2 separate regions of the Homo sapiens genome follow, and region 1 is linked to region 2. A link means that fine-mapping ties the variant in region 2 to the plasma level of a protein whose gene starts in the linked region. Region 2 holds a variant in brackets. A gene starts in the other region. All regions are shown on their forward strands.

What was found. PIP is the posterior inclusion probability: the model's chance that the variant is causal. Protein levels are from antibody-based Olink assays in UK Biobank. Linkage for the fine-mapping came from a reference panel and not from the study's own genotypes, which makes the PIPs less certain.
Region 1: it holds the start of SELE, and the variant in region 2 is fine-mapped to the plasma level of the SELE protein (UK Biobank, PIP above 0.99).

What each region holds. Positions count from the first base shown.
Region 1 is chr1:169,733,834-169,739,183 of GRCh38, forward strand. It overlaps SELE (selectin E), which reads right to left and starts at 246. Exons shown (of 14, transcript NM_000450.2): 1 at 138-246.
Region 2 is chr11:126,429,657-126,434,987 of GRCh38, forward strand. It overlaps KIRREL3 (kirre like nephrin family adhesion molecule 3), which reads right to left. Exons shown (of 17, transcript NM_032531.4): 14 at 1,763-1,870. Among named protein-coding and RNA genes, the nearest start is that of ST3GAL4, 77 kb to the left of the region's middle. RefSeq lists a silencer at 4,831-4,996. The variant G/A (reference allele first, on the strand shown) is at 2,317.

The DNA of each region.
Region 1 (5,350 bases), not on the chromosome of region 2:
ATTTAGGTCAAAGAGAAAAGACAGGTTTTAGCTACAATACAATAAGAGCTTGTACAGATGTGGTTTTTATTAGAAGGCCTTTTGCATATCTGTGTTTCATGGCCCGAGGCTGCCCTTATAAAGCGTTCTGCACTTACCGTTTTGGGAAGCAGTTGTTCAAACACAGGATCTCTCAGGTGGGTATCACTGCTGCCTCTGTCTCAGGTCAGTATAGGAGTTTTGATGTGAAGTCAGCCAAGAACAGCTGAACACTACTTCGGCTGAGGCCCTTTTATAGGAGGGATTGCTTCCTGTGAATAATAGGAGGATATTGTCCACATCCAGTAAAGAGGAAATCCCCAATGGCATCCAAAAACTTTCCCGGGAATATCCACGATGCTTAAAATTACAATGATGTCAGAAACTCTGTCTCTTGAAGCTACTTCACCTTTGTCCATGCCTTTATATCGTATATGCAATTTTATTAATATGACAAAAATGCATGATTTTTAATTATAATAACATAAAGTCTATGTCTTTAAAAAGTTGTAAAACTTTGCTTGTTAGTAGTGTCTCTCATGTAGTTGTGGTAGTAATTAGAATTTCAGAAACAGAAGGAAACCAAGAATAGGTTTGTCATCCATAGTCTACTACCTTCAATTTCTCATTCATAGCTGTGGATAACCAATCACTACTCATTTTTTCTTCCTTTTTCACCTGCCAATTCAACATATTTAACATGCACTGTCTCACAGAGGAATGACTCACAAGGTAGATATTAATCTTCAGATTTTGCACGGCAGTTATGCCTAAATTAAAATATTATCTAAAAATAATATCTAACACTCAAATGGTTAAAATAATGCCTTATTTTAAAAAAAGAAAAATGGGAAATAGATATTTACATCTGGGAAAGTTTCATGGTTTGTTCAGTGAAAAAAATAAAAAGGAGGCCAGGCACAGTGGCTCACGCCTGTAATCCCACCACTTTGGGAGGCCGAGGCAGGCGGATCACCTGAGGCCGGGAGTTCAAGACCAGCCTGACCAACATGGAGAAACGCCATCTCTACTAAAAATACAAAATTAGCTGGGCATGGTGGCGCATGCCTGTAATCCCAGCTACTCGGGAGGCTGAGGCAGGAGAATCGCTTGAACCCGGGAAGTGGAGGTTGCAGTGAGCCAAGATCACGCCAGTGCACTCCAGCCTGGGAAACGAGTGAAACTCTGTCTTAAAAAAAAAAAAAAAAAAAGAAAAGAAAAGAAAAAAAATAAAACGGAAAACTATATATATATATTTAATTGGTCAAAATTTTGTTTAAAATTTTTGAAATGTTAATGTGCAAAGAATAAAAATTCTTCCACAATGTTAACAGTGACTAACTCTGGATGGCAGGATTTGGGATAATTTTTATATCCTTCATTATTATTTTCAGGATTTTAAAGTTTTTTTCAATTTCCCTTTTTTTCACCTTTATAGTAACAAGAATACAGTTTAAAGAAACTTGTCTCTAGGCCAGGCATGATGGCTCATGCCTGTAATCCCAGCACTTTGGGAGGCTGAGGTGGGTGGATCACCTGAGGTCAGGAGTTCCAGACCAGCGTGGCCAATATGGTGAAACCCTGTCTCTACTAAAAATACAAAAATTAGCCGGGGTGTAGTGGCGCATGCCTGTAATCCCAGCTACTGGGGAGCCTGATGCAAGAGAATCGCTTGAACCCAGGAGGCAGAGGTTGCAGTGAGCTGAAATCACACCATTGCACTCCAGCCTGGGCGACAGAGCAAGACTCCATCTCAAAAAAAAAGAAAAAAAGAAAAAGAAAAGAAAAGAAATTTGTTTCCAAATGCAACAGAAGGAGATGTATGTGGTATCCTATATTCCTGCTCTTCATTTTGACATTTCTTCTGGGTGATTGTATACATTCCCCATCTCTGCATCTTACCCTATCTAAATGATGGTAACAGTAAATGGGGATCATTTTAATTTCCATATTCTGTAGGTTTTCAGAGCTCAAGTCAAGCTAATATTCTATATCTACAGCCTTTCAAAATAGGAGGTCTATCTAAAAATGTACTGTCAGCAGACCTGAACGAGTAGTGGTAAAAGCCTCGTTTTTCTCTTTACTTGTTAGCACTGGTCTTTCTGTGTTCATAAAGATGTCAAGACCCAAAAAAAAAACAAGAAAAGAGAAGAAAAATTCCAAAAAAGACAACTGATTAGAAAAAAATAACTTAATTAACGAATTTAATTCAACCCCTATCAAAAAGCATAGAATTTATTCCCTCCACCTTACCACTCTCTTACATGATCCAGATACTGACATTATTCCAATTCTTTATCCCACTTTACTTAGCTCAATGTGGTTGTTGCTTCAATAAATTCAGAAGAGTAATCACTCATATAGTGTTTATTTAGATTTTAGGGCAGAATGTCAAGTTGGGTTAATACATTATCTGTATGTATTTTATTTTTAATAAAGTATGAATACATAATCTGCTATTTTTAAAAAGCATGGTCAAATGTATAGAGTAGCCAAATCTTAAAAAACAATTTATCTTCGATATCAATAAAGTACCTAATAATTATATTGCTAATAGAAATTAGTCGTTAACATCCCTAGATAACTAACTTTATTATTGCGAATTTTTCATAACTAAGTTTATAGTTTATCTCTTCCCCTTTTTAAAATTAGTTCAAAGATATCTAAAAATAGCCCCAGTGGTGATGAAGTTTCTATTTTACTTACATATATATGTCCTGGACCCCCAATTATAATCTCTAACATTTATTGAGTGCTTACTATGTGCCAGGCCATATTCTGAGCATTTTGTATGTTCACCTATTGATTATTCAATCCGTACAACAGCCTATGAAATAGGTACTCCTATTATCCCCATTTTACAGATGAGGAAATTGAGAATCTGGGGATTTTATCTCATTCAAAAGCACAGAGCTAAGGGTTGAAACCAGGCAGTTGATATCCAGAGCCCACTCCCTTACCTGCTACTCCAAACCATGATTTCTTTTGTTGTTATGCCCCGAGATTCCTTGTTCTACCCAAGTTTCCTGTACTCTTCTTGCCCTCTTCTTCCTGAGACATCCTTGACCATCACAGCTCTCCACTGAGATAACTGTGTCCTGGGTTCTGAGACATGGGGGCTGGAAGGGACCCCAGGGACAGTGAGCAGTAGGGAGAGGATGCAGTGAGAACAGACCCTGGATCCCCGGTGCATAGGCAGGGAGAAAGTGGACAAAGGAAAAAACAAGCAAGGCAGGTGGAGCCATGCCTAGGTAAAGTTGATCCCTAAGCCACAGTTCCCAGAAGTTCCTGATTCAAAAGCAAATTTTCTCTAAGGTCAAAGGGCAAACTGATTATTCTAAATTCTAAACTGATTATTTCTAAATTGAGAAAGCTTCAGGGAGAGATCCCAATATTCGAAGGATAAGAGAAATGAGGAGTGGAAGAGATAGGTGAGTAACAGTAACTTAAATGTAGACTATATATAATATATAATATATGTAGAGTATATATATATAATTACAATATATTATATATGTGGAATATATATATTATTTATATATATTTATATATTTTATATATATAGATATTTTTATATTTTATATATAAATATAGATATTTTTATATTTTATATATAAATATAGATATTTTTATATATATTATATATAAATATATGTAAAATACTGTGAAAGAAGAATAGAATCTTGAGACCTCAAATTCACTATGCCAAAGGGAAAGTTAAGCTTGGGAAATGAGTCATGCAAAAACTGCCTTCCTTTTGTTCCCAAATACCTGTAATTTCACATGCTTACTTTATCTTATATAAAATGTAGATGTACTGAGCATGAGATCCATGCATAATTTCCCTCTAGTCCCTTCTTTTTACATGTAAAGTGTAGACTCACTGAGTGTTACAGAGCCTTGCCACAATGTAAACACTTGTCTCATTGCCAACCCATCTTTCGTTTATTTTCTTCCCCTCCTGCTTGCTCTTTCCCCTCTAAAGATGGAAGTTCCCAAAACTCTCTTTGGAAAAAGCGCAGGTCACAGATCCTACAGTGATTTGTGTTTCTTTTACCTGGGACAAAATAAACCTCTAATCTGTTGAGATATGCTTCAGTTACTTTTTGGTTTACAATATGTACATGTATGTATATAATTTATATGTATATAATATATGTACTTGTTTTAACCAGAGGTATGTTATTCAAAATCCATTCATCCTTACAATTACCTGCATTCTCCCACAGTATTTTCTGTGTCCCTGCCCCCGAGGTTGTCACTGCAAATCAGGTACATGGATACTGGGAGCTGATGGGCTCCCCTCTGGCTACCTGGGCTGCTGAAGGGGCCATAGACAGACCCAGCTTTCCTCTCGTGGAGAGGCCCTGGGCCAGCGCTGCGTGGGAGTGGGATTACAACCAGACTATAGCTTCTTCACCTGCTTTTTCCTATCAGGATTTCATAAGAGGCAATTGCTTGTTTTTTGAGGGTGGGGGCAAATCAGGGGGAGTTGAAGAGGAAATTGGGTAAGATTTGAATAGTTGGGCATGTTGAATATTATGAATATCATCTCCCTCTTCAAATAATCCAAAATATACCCCCAAGAAACAGGCTGATTAGAGGTGCTTCAAGGCTCCACTGAATCTCCCAAGCTCTGAAGATGTAGCTAGCTGTTACCGGATTGCCGGTTTTCAAGCCTCGCCTCACATGGACCCTCTTGGCAGTTTCTCGCATGGGGGAAGCATCCGCTACATAGATGGGAATGAAAAGAGGAAAGAAGACGGTGCAAACTCAGGCACACCCCGGTGTCTGCCACCAGTGCTATTTAATCTCTGAGGTGTCACCCTTCCTGGCTTTATTGTCTCTTCCTGGAAGTCTCTTGTCCTCTCCTCCACACCCTTTAATCAGGCATCAAAGACTTTAACCAGTTTTGCTGTGTGCCCAGGCCCACTCATTCTCACTTTTATGGCAAAGGGAGTGGGAGACAGAGAGATAGCCAGAAAGAAGAGATTGGGGACCCCAAGACAAATGTTAGAATTTTAACCAAGGCCACCCTGTGGACAGGAGATTATTGGGTTTAGTGGAAAGCAGCACTGGCCACAACCACACGTGGCAAAAGCATCTATCGAGGAGTGAAGTTATATTTGGTGAATGTGACCGGGAAGCAGGGGCAGTGGTGTCCTCCTGCCTTCCTGAGGCACTCTGTTCCCTTACCTCTGCGAAGGCTTATTTTACCCCTGAGTGCTTAGTTTTGAAAGCCTTAGTTCCCTCTCTCCCATAAAAAAGCTCTACTCTGCTAACATCTAAGTTACCTTTGCAGAGTCTTAGGTAGAGGGAGGAAATCCCAATA
Region 2 (5,331 bases):
CAATCCCTCCATTCATAGAACCATAAATCTCAGTGTTGGAAAGGACCTCAAAGTGCCCATGGCCAACCCCCATCCAAAGAGAAACGCCCCTGAGGCAGTGGGCAGCTTCTCTGTCGACGCCTCCGTGATGGAAGCTTTACTGCTACTTCTGCAGGAGGCAGGCTGTTTCTAGTTGGAGAGCTCTGTTAGAAAATTCTTGGCTGGGTGCGGTGGCTCACGCCTGTAATCCCAGCACTTTGGGAGGCCGAGGTGGGCAGATCACGAGGTCAGGAGTTTGACACCAGCCTGGCCAACATGGTGAAACCCCGTCTCTATTAAAAATCCAAAAATTAGCTGGGCGTGGTGGTGGGTGCCTGTAATGCCAGCTACTCGGGAGGCTGAGCATGAGACTCGCTTGAATGAACCCGGGAGGCAGCGGCTGCGGTAAGCCGAGATTGTGCCACTGCACTCCAGCCTGGGCAACAGGATGAGACTCTGTCTCAAAAAAAAAAAAGGAAATTCTTGAGGAGCTGGTGCGGTGGCTCACGCCTGTAATCCCAGCACATTGGGAGGCCGAGGAAGGCGGACCACTTGAGGCCAGGAGTTCGAGACCAGCCTGGGCAACATGGTGAAATCCTGTCTCTGCAAAAAATTAAAAAAATAGCAAGGCATGATGGCACACGCCTGTAATCCCAGCGACTCAGGAGGCTTAGGCACGAGAATCGCTTGAACCTGGGAGGCGGAGGTTGCAGTGAGCTGAGATCGTGTCACTGCACTTCAGCCTGGCCAAAAGAGAGAGACCCTATATAAAAAAAAACCGTATATATATGTGTATATATGCGTATGTGTATATATTTGTATGCTTCCCTATAATTTCCACTGAGACGGTGGTGATGGAGGTCCTGAGACCACATCATTGCTGGGGTGGTCTTGAGAGCCAAGGCTGCTTAGCTCGGAGTGCAGAAAATGCAAGGGGAACAGCTTTCTTCAAACATGTGCAGGCTGCCGAGTGGCAGAGGAGCAGACCCATTCTGGTGATTCATTTTTTGCATTACACTTATATAATGTTAGTGCCAGATGGGGCCATCAGAGTCATATCCTCATTATAAATGAGGAGACAGGCCTGGAATAACTGTGGCTGGCCCAGGGTCATGTGGCAGAAGAGGTGGGACTGGAACACTGTGTCTCCATTGTCTTCACCTGTTCTCTGCCATCCAATCTCTCACACGTTATCTCCTCGGTGCACGCAATTCTTCAAGCGTGCACAAACACTAGAATTTTATTGGTAATCACTGAAGACCTTTAAAAGTTTTCTCAAAGCAATTCCTTTATTGCTTCCCCACCCACTCCCCCACAGCTGTGTGAGTGACCTGCTTTTCTGGTGAGACTAGCAGCTCTTTATTTTTATTTTGTTGTAGAGATGGGGTCTCTCTAGACTAACAGCTCTTGTAGAGCAAGGATCAAACCACAAACCGCTTTTCCCCCTATCTTTCTGTACAGTTCCTGACTGAAAGAGCTATGTGTTCAATCCAAAATGCTGGCTGCCCTGCAGATGAAGTTCAGTCTAGTCCAGGTCAACCTCAGCCTAGCGCCCACTCTGCCAGGCGCCATGTTGCCCAGGCTCACATACACCGATGCATCAGACCCACTCCCTGCCCCAGGAGCTCACAGCACTGTTAGGACCCCTGTTCATTGCACTCCTGCTTACTTGCTCTCCGGGGCAGCCTAAGCCTGGCCTTTTTCTCTGTCCCCCTCCCTGAGATCCCGGATCTCCCTCCCGTACTTCTCTGGGAACGGGCACAGCAGAACGCCACGATGGTTGCCATAAGGACGAGGAAGGCCACACCAGCTCCTACGGCCACCCCAATGATGACGGCCATCGGCACAGACTCTGTGGGAGAGAAGCGGGCACAGCTGATGACGGATGGGGAATGGCCTACTATCCCCCCATGATCTCACCCCGTTCCTGCGGGGGCAGCCCCTGCCACATGGGGCCCTCCTGGGAAATGCCTCAGTGGGGCCTGGGCAGGCACAGGCCGAGTCCAACTGGGGTCAGCTCTAGCTGGGACTGCAAAGACCAGGGTGGAGGACACAGGGGCTTGGTGGGTGGAGGAGAGGGCAGGGGAACTGAGGTAAAGGGCAGAGGAAGGAGAGCGAGGCAGGCAGACACGGAGAAGGGAGGGCCAGGGGACAGGAAGACCGGAGATGAGGGGTGGGGCTGGCACGATGGAGCTCTCTCTGGCATTAAACAGGAATGCTCTATCACACAGCGGCCAGTGAGTCATAGGCCCTGGCTTTTTTTGAAAAATGACTATGGTCACTGCCCTTGTTTGTTCC[G/A]TATGTTCTCTCCTTCCCTTCCCTTTCTCGGGTGAATATAGAGGACATCCGGCTCTTAGTGTTTGCAGGTCTAAGTAGCTTCCCCGCAGGTCTGCTGGGCATCAGTTGTGGCCCTCAGGTGTCCAAGTCTCAGGGTCCAGGGAGCAGGGTTACAGCTTCTCCACTGCCACCTCTCTAAGGAGAGAGGCCCCTTTCCCTCCATCTCCAGGTCTGCAGCTTCTCCCTCAAGGCTGCCCCTCTGAGCATCCTTGCACCCCTCCTGGCAAGAGAGGCCCACACACTGGGCAGGCAAGCCCTCACCCCTGCTGAGTCTCTGTGGCCTGTCTCCTGCCCAAGCCGAGTGGGGGTAGGGACAGGGAGGGTAAGGATAGAGTCGGGGGTGATCTTCCACACAGCCTTGGCCCTTCTACAGCTGCAAGTGGGGTCGGAGCACATGATTTAGGGCCTTGAGGAATCCATCAGGAATAGAACTAGAGAATGCTGGGGCAGGGAGAGCTTGGGGCTCTCACTGAGGTCCGGAGAAGTCAAGTGATTTGGCCAAGGACACACAGGAGCTGCCCAGCCAGGGTCAATCCAGGTCTCCTCTCACTGCTCCCACCCCTCCACTCACCCCACTCCCACCCCGTCCAGCTCCACCCACAGAGTGACATGTGAGATCCCCCACATCTCATGTGCTCGGTACCGCCCAGACTGCTGCTGCTCCGAGTCCTGGCTCCATCCCTTCTGCTGAGCAACTGACTTTGCCTCTCTTATATCTGTAGGATGGGGATAATGGTACCGGCCCCTCTGAGGGTTGTTATGGGCTTGAGCTGGGTGAATGTGGGCAGAGGCCTTGGAGCAGAGCCTGGCACCCAGCCCTGTTTGGTGTTTGCTGTTGTTGTTACCCAGGAAGGGGTCACCAGCAGTTCACGGTCTTTTATTTTTGGGATGGAGTCTGGCTGTGACACCCAGGCTGGAGGGCAGTGGCACGATCTCAGTTCACTGCAACCTCCGCCTCCTGGGTTCAAGCGATTCTCCTGCCTCAGTCTCCCGAATAGCTGGGATTACAGGCACATGCCACCATGCCTGGCTAATTTTTGTATTTTTAGTAGAGATAGGGTTTCACCATGTTGGCCAGGCTGGTCTCAAACTCCTGACCTCAGGTGATCCGCCCGCCTCAGCCTCCGAAAGTGCTGGGATTACAGGCGTGAGCCATCGTTCCCGATCAGCAGTTCACAGTCTTAAAGGCCAGGAAAGTTCCTTTGAAAGACTGAGCCCCTCCCCAGCCTACCCTGCGTTCGTCAGTGTGGGCGAGTGGGGACAGCTAGGTATCAGTTCTGGGTTGTAAGCCTCTTGCTGTCTTTTTCTTTAAAGGGAGGAGAAAGACCTCAAACCCTGGCCTCTGAAGATGCTGCTGGGAGGAGGTATCAAGGGGTGGGGGTAGGGTGGCAGCCATTTGCCCTCCGGCCAGAGGGAGCTGGCGCCCCTGGCTGGCAGTGTTGCTGGTTAAGCTGGCACATCCCTTTGCCACCCCAGGACTTGCACACGAAGCCATTGGTTACCTACCAATTAGTGGCCAGGACAGCTGTAGGGGTGACAGGGAGGGGACCAAGAGGAGGTGGAATGGTGGACACTTAGGGATTGAAACGGGAGGTGCTCGCATTGGTTCAACAGTCAGACTGAGAAAAGGGGCTGGGCCTCAGCAGAGCTTGCCTTGACCAATAGACGACAACGTCTCTAGGTTTAGTTCCATGAAGAAAGGGAAACTGCTGTGGCAGCTCATTGGTTCTCTGCTTTTGAATTGGATTGATTTGGGTTGGTTTCTCCTCAGATTCCTAGTAAGTTTCCTTGGAAAAACACAGGGCTTGTCTCAGCGGAACTCAGAGCCAAAGCATGTCCATGGAAGGCTCTTAACACCTCTGGGCCTCAGTGCCTTGTCTGCACCCTGGAGAGCTGGGCAGCAGCATTGAAGGTGCCTTCCGATCCTGGGATCCCCAGCCCACGTTTCCACACGCTGCTGACGGCTGGGGGAGGGGTGCCCTCTTAGCTGGACAACGGTCACCAGGGAGGTGGGCAGGGGGAGAGCAGGGGGTCCTGTGGGGGCGAGTGCCCCGGGGTGCCATCTCTTCCCAGTCCCCAGCCTGCCTGTGTGTGTTTCCTCCTTGCCTGGCTTCCTGAGGTTTGGCCTAGGGCGATGTGCAGGCCCCTCCTCTCTGCACAGAGCCTTCCCTGCATGGCTCCTGGAGAGGGACTGGAGGGAGGGGCTGTCCCCACTCAGCCTCCCCTCCATCCAAGGAGGTGTGCCAGGCACCAGGAGCCACCGAGGGGGGAAGGTGTTGGGGAGCTCTGGATGAGTGTCAGCAGACACAGGAGACACGGAGACAGGAGACACCACCCTCAGCACTAGCATGGACCCGGGGAGAAGGCAGCGGGAGGCTGGCAGCTTTCTGGGTTGCCCCAGTGTGGGCTGCAGGGGCCTCTGTGAGCAACCTGTGCCCTGGGTTGGTGCTCTGATAGGGGCATGTCTGCCAGGAGGGGCAGAGGCAGGGGCATGAGGATCCCACGTGGAGCTTGTTGAGGAGGTAACAGAGGCCAGGGGCCAGTGTGGCAGGAGGCCTGGGATGGAGGACCACTCAAGTCTTCAGCATGGCCATAGAGCCTGGCTTGCTGGTCCTGATTCTCTTTTCTGGTTTTCTGCTCGGGGTGGGGTTGAGAGCAACTCCGCCCAGGGGGCCTGATGACTGCTTTGCTGCGTGTGCCTGGGGAGGGAGGCGCTGCCCTGCAGCCTCAGCTTGGGGTGAGATGACACTTCCATGGGGACTGCAGGAGTAGGGAGGGGTGGCAAACAGCAAGCATGGATTGCACAAGCCACAGCAGGGGCTGGGGGCCCCCGGTGTCCTGGGAAGCAGTGGCCAAGCTGGTGATGATGTGGAGAAGCGGGAAGGGTCGGAGAGAGCCTGGAAGCAGAAGGCAGTCAGGACAGGGGCCAGCTGACCCCAGAGGCCAGGAGTCAGGGCTCCTGAAGAGAAAGGATGG